Linked DNA regions of Homo sapiens: region 2 is linked to region 1. Evidence: fine-mapped expression QTL. Tissue or cell type: whole blood. Region 1 holds a variant in brackets; the other region holds the start of a gene. All regions are shown on one strand. Distances are between the middles of the regions.

Region 1 (2,749 bases):
ATAAGGTGGGGAGGAGGGGATTAGAAATCACCCAGGGCTCAAATCCCAGCCATGCCCTTGGCTCCTGTGTGACTCTGGGCGAATCCCTTGACGTCTCTGAAGACATCAGTGATGTGCTGGTACATGGAGGATGCTCAGTCAACATTAGCTCCCTGCCTTTCTTTCCTCCTCCACATCCTGAGTCTTGTTCATTTCTTCCTTTTTTTGCACATATTTATGACAGCACAGCCTCTGAAGCAAGACTGCTGGGGAACATGTCCAAGCTGTGTGACCCTCGGCAAGTCACTTAGCCTCTCTGTGCCTCAGTTTCCTCCTCTGTGCAATGGGGATAAGAAGAGTGTCCAGCACAAGGGCCATGAGAAGATTAGAGGAGTCAATGGGTGAAAAGTGCTCAGAGCAGTGCCCGGAACACAGTGAGCGCTCCCTGTGCGTGTAGCTGCTGTGCTGTTAATATGTTTCCCTTATGACGGGGCCCTGCTCAGAGTGGGCACCACGGCAGACACTGTGGATGGCGCACTGAAGCCACAGCAACGCAATGGCTCACACTTGCTGAGCACTCACTATGTGCCAGGTGCTGCGCTAAGTGATTTTCTGCCAGCCTTCCCCCTCCCCGGGATCACAATCAAAAGAGAATACAAAATACTAAGCCGTTTGTGCAGGGTGTTTTGGGAACACAGAGGGAGGACTGATGCATGGGGAGGGCTCAGAGGGCCTGCGGGAGGGAGGGGCACAAGGCTCTGTTTGAGCTTCACAGTCCCCAGGAAGGAGCAGAGGAGCATGGGCCCCTGTTGGGTTTTACCCCTTGTCATCATGCCTACTGCTTTGGGGGCACCCCTCCACCTCACCATCACCCCAACCTGTCAGGGAGAGACCTGTGGCTCCCACACAGCCAGGGAACTTGGAGGAAGCCAGGCAGGGAGGAAGGCCTGGGTTCACAGTGCCTCCTGCAGCCTGATTTCTGCCAGGGCTGGAGATCAGCAGGTCTACAGCATGTCCTAGAGGATGGACCCCCATCCGTTGTTGTGGGCAGAGGGAGCAGTGGGAAAGGCACGGCCTAAGGTCAGACTGACTTGGCCTGATCCTAACCAGCTGTGGGACCAGGGGCAAGTTATGTAATCTGTTACAAAAGAAAAGAGGAAGAAAGGATGAGAGACAGAGATGAAGAAAGAGAAGAAGAGTGGGCACATGGGCCACAGATGACATCCAGGTGA[G/C]TGTAAGAACCCAGCCAGCAAATGAGACGAAGGTGCTCCGTGAGCCAGGCATGAGGAAGGCCTGATGTCCTCGGGCTCCTCACCCCCATTCCATGCACATTTCTTCCCTGCACCTGCTGCCCCGTTTCTCTGAGCCCTGAGCCTTGGAATGGGAGGGAGTGGGGGCGGTGTGTTGAGGAGCCATGTCTCCAAGTCAGGCCAGGTCAGTGGTGCCAAGTCCTCTAACCCACAGGCTGGGATCTGGCCACCTTGCCCCAGCTGGGCCACCTCCCACTCCACACAAAGCCACTGGGAGCAGGAGGCACCCAACACAGGCTCCACCCTGGGCAGCCACCCCAGACATGGTGGAAAGGGAAAATGCTGCCCTCACAAATATGCCTCCAAGACCCCATGGCAGTTGAGGCAGGGGTCAGCTCACAGCAGCCACCAAGGCCTAAACACCCTCGCTCGCACACCTCTGATCATCTCAGCAAATGTGGCTGCTCGCTGGGCAGTGGAGCAAATGGTATAACTTCACAGTTCTCAAAGCGCGTTCACCTGTCTGATCGCCTCTGGATCTCACAGAAGCCCTGAGAGACAGGCTTCATTGCTGATGCCACTTCATGCATGGGGGTGTGGGGGCCCAAGGGTAAGGTCAACTTGGCCAATGTTGAACAGCTAGAGAGACAGCCCTGGGATGAGAGCTCGGGCCTTCTGACCCCAAGGCCATGCTCCCTCTGCCTGCCAGGCAGACACAGACCTCGCCTGGGAAGTGACCTCAGGAAGTAGGAGACAGACTTGTGCCAGGACCGGCCCTGGGCTAGGCACGACTCACCAAGGCAGGAGCACATGGGGCATAGAAGGGCATAGGGGCTGCACCATGCAAGAGGACGTGTTTGGGCTGAACCTGGGGGAGATGAGAGAGTCACTGGCTAAGGCCATAGCACAGGTGGAGTGGGGATGAGAAGGCTGAGCAGAGGTCAAACGGCCCAGGCTGGGCTACCTTCCAGGACTGGGGCAGGGCAGAGTGAAGCCCACCCAAAGAGGGGCATTCTCTGTCCCCTAGGGGCCAGATGGGGATGGGGGAAAGATGAGAAACCTGGTTGAGATTTCTTACCTCTTGAGGGCCTTAAAACCAGGTTCTGGGGAAGGGGTGCTGTCCTGACAAGTTAGGGTTCAGAGAGGAGAGCTCTGAGGCCCTGGATGGTTGGGGAAGACTCCCTGAGAGAGGTGGGCTCAAGCTGGGCTCTGAAAGGGGGATAGGAGAGAAGAGATTCGGGAAAGGCATTGCAGACTCGGGGACAGTGTGAGCAAGGCCTTGAGGCTGAGAAGCCCAAGGGGTGTGTGCATGCACGCACGTTTGCATGTGTGCACATATGTGTCTGCGTGCATGCATGAAATTAAGCAGCTGCAGGGGTGGGTCAGGGAGAAGGAGAGGGGCTCCGGTGGGTGTTGCTTCCCAGGTATCCGGGCTGCTTCTCATCTCCCTCACACCAACCCTCCCATCAGGTACATGAGCCTCACTTTACAAATGAGGGCAGATCTGGCTCAGGAAGCCC
Region 2 (2,749 bases), 28 kb after region 1:
GAGGAAGTGAAGGCCACAGATGGGTGTCTGAAATTCCCAAATGAGGCAGGAGTAAATGGAGGGAGGGGAGGAGTCCAGCCCACGGAAAGGAGTGGTATCTGGGCAGGCCCTGGAGACTCTTCAAAAAGGGCTGGGAGGTGGTGGCGATCTGTGTATTTATCTTGCTGGCAAAGAGGCGCTGCCCAGTCAACTTTGTAACTGAATCCACCAAACAGGCAGACTTTGCAACACAGCCGGCCCAGGTTTCTGCAGAAGGCGCTGGGCAGCTGGAACCTCTCCCCCCCCCTTTCTAGCCCCCCTCCCAAGAGCTCAAGAGGATTTCCCTTTCATTTCCTTCGAGGCTGGGAGGGCTGGGGACAGCGCAGTCTGTGGGGTCAAGCCCTCAGAAACCACTTCCTATGTGGCTGGGGGAGGGCGAGCAGCTGGAGGACGTATCTGGGGTCCCCGAGTGAGAACAGCAGGAGAAGCCCTCTGGGCAGTCACTGCTCTCCAGGGTGCCTTTCGGGTCGGGAACCGCAGAGGTCGGAGAAAAGATTTTAGGCCCTTCCAGAGGAGCTCCGAGCAGAATCTGCACTCTCGGTCCCAGCCCGCGGTGGCCAGGACGAGGATAAGGTTGGGCGTGAGAAGGACACTTCGAAGGGGCTCCCCGCCCAGGCCGCACCCCAGCTGTCTGAAGAAAATCCGGAGACAACCCCTCCTCAACTCCCTCCCCCAACCCCTTTGGAGCAGGGCTGCCCTGGCAGGGAGAGGGGGCGGGAGAGCTCCGCCCCGGCCTGCATTGCTCCAGCCCGGGCTCAGCCGGGAGGTGACGCGCACCCGGCACCCCGGGGACTTCGGGCGGCGAGTTTGGCAGAGTTGAACGAAGCCAAGCCAAGCCGGGCCCGGCAATGCGGAGCCGGGCCGCGCCAGGCCAGGAAGAGCGGGTCAGACAGGGAACGGCCCGCCACGGTGGGGCGGTGGGGCGGTGGGGCGGTGGGCGGGGGCGCGCGGGGGCACCCACCTCTCCGCGCTGCAGCTGGAAGAAGCTGTTGAGATAGCTGGAGTGCAGGGGCGAGCCCAGCTGCTCGGGGCGGCCCTTGCCGAAGGCCAGCTCCGGGGGTGCGGCGCCGGCGGTCGGCTCGGGCCGGAAGGCATCGAAGGCGCTAGCCTGGTGCGTGTCCTGCAGCGACAGGTAGACCCAGTTGAGCAGCTGGGCGGGCTGGTACACCGAGGCGGCGCTCGTGTCGATGGCCGACAGCAGGCTCATTTTGTGGCGGCGGTGCCGGCCCCTCCCCGGCCGCCCGCTCGCGGCCCCCCTCCGCAGCGGAGGGGCGGGCACCGGGGAGCCTGTGCCCACTGCCCGCCTCCCGAGCCCCGACGGTGATCGCCCCGCGCCCTGCGCCCCGCGCGCTGCCCGCAGCCGCTGCCGCTGCCGCCGCCTCCCCCCGACTGCGGCCCCGGCGCGCGCAGGCGGTGGAAGGAGGCAGCGAAAGTTGGGCAGGAAACTTTTGGCCCCGCCCCTCCGCCCCGCCCACTGCGTCCCGCCCCGCCCGGCGATCCGCTATCTGCCTCGCGGCTGACCCCTCCAGCGGCGGCTCCGGGGGTGGGGTCCACGATGCCCCGCCGCCCACTCCCTGCCCCGCCTGGCACTGTCCTCGCCCTGCATTGGCTGTCTCGTTGAATATGAACCGTCAGGGGTGGGGAGAGAGGGGAGTGAGGCTCATCTGCATATGCAGCACGGCGCGGGCCCGCCCATGCGAGGCCCCGCCCAAGCCCCACCTCGTCCCAGCCCGGCCAACCCAGCTCCCCGAGCTGCCGGGAGCTCAGTGCAGCCCCGGCCTAATCAATTTCGTCTCCCTCTGTCGTCAGCGCTCTTGTCTCGTTCTTTCCAAATCCTCTGCAATTGTTTTTCACTCACTTTTCCTTTCCTATTTTCCCTCCTTTCTCATACTCCTTCTTTCTCTCTCTCTTAGACTAGTACTAGTCTCCTGTGTCCGTCGTCCTTGTATGTGGCGCCCTCCGTGTGTGTGTGTGTGTGTGTGTGTGTGTGTATGTCCTTCTCTTTCTCTCACTCTTCTTGTCTCCTTTCTTCTATTTCCGTCTGGTCTGATGTTTCTCCCTGTCTCTCCCGCTCCTCTCTCAGACGCGTGTACACAGACGCACACACTTCTAACTCCCTCCTCTCGCTATCACCATCGGACCCTCCCCCTCCTACTTAATTCCTTCCATCTGCAGAATCACTTTGCGGGCCGGCTGCGCCAAGGGGGGCCCGGGTTCCTGCCCCAGGAAAGACTCCCCGCCCCCTCCCCCCCCCCTTCTCCTATTTCTGCTCTGGGCCCGCCTCGCTTCTCGACCCTCTTCCTCCACCCCGGCTCCAGCCCTAGCCCGCCCCGGTGCCTTGGCGAGTCGCCAGGACACCAGCCTGGGCCGGGGGAGCTCGGGAAAGCGGCTGTCACCCATCTCGCTGGGACAACTCAGCTAGTCCAAGACTGCCTGGAGGGAGCCCCGCCCCCGCCTCCGCCTCCGCCTGACGCCCCAGGAAGCCCCGGGGCCTTCACCGTCTCTTTCTCCGGGTGGTCTTTGCTGCGCCAGCACCGGGGACCTAGCCCAGAGGAACTCACCGCCTGGCTGGGACCGAGTCACCTCTCCCACTTTCAGTCTGGCTCTGGAGCCATTCCGCCCAGCGTTGGAGTGCCAGCTTGGCCACCGTCCAGCGGAATGACCTCTGCATGACGCCTAACCTCTGCGAGCAAGCCTGTTTTCTCCTCTG

Evidence for each region. PIP is the estimated chance that this variant, and not a neighbour inherited with it, causes the effect.
Region 2: ZCCHC24 starts here. The variant in region 1 is fine-mapped to the expression of ZCCHC24 in whole blood (INTERVAL, PIP 0.95).

What each region holds. Positions count from the first base shown.
Region 1 is chr10:79,416,483-79,419,231 of GRCh38, forward strand. The region is part of intron 2 of ZCCHC24 (zinc finger CCHC-type containing 24); the gene reads right to left. Among named protein-coding and RNA genes, the nearest start is that of ZCCHC24, 28 kb to the right of the region's middle. The variant G/C (reference allele first, on the strand shown) is at 1,212.
Region 2 is chr10:79,444,195-79,446,943 of GRCh38, forward strand. It overlaps ZCCHC24 (zinc finger CCHC-type containing 24), which reads right to left and starts at 1,430. Exons shown (of 4, transcript NM_153367.4): 1 at 1,001-1,430. The coding sequence starts at 1,246. LOC105378383 (a long non-coding RNA gene) reads left to right here and starts at 2,047. Exons shown (of 4, transcript XR_946104.4): 1 at 2,047-2,749. RefSeq lists silencers at 1,283-1,342, 1,353-1,862.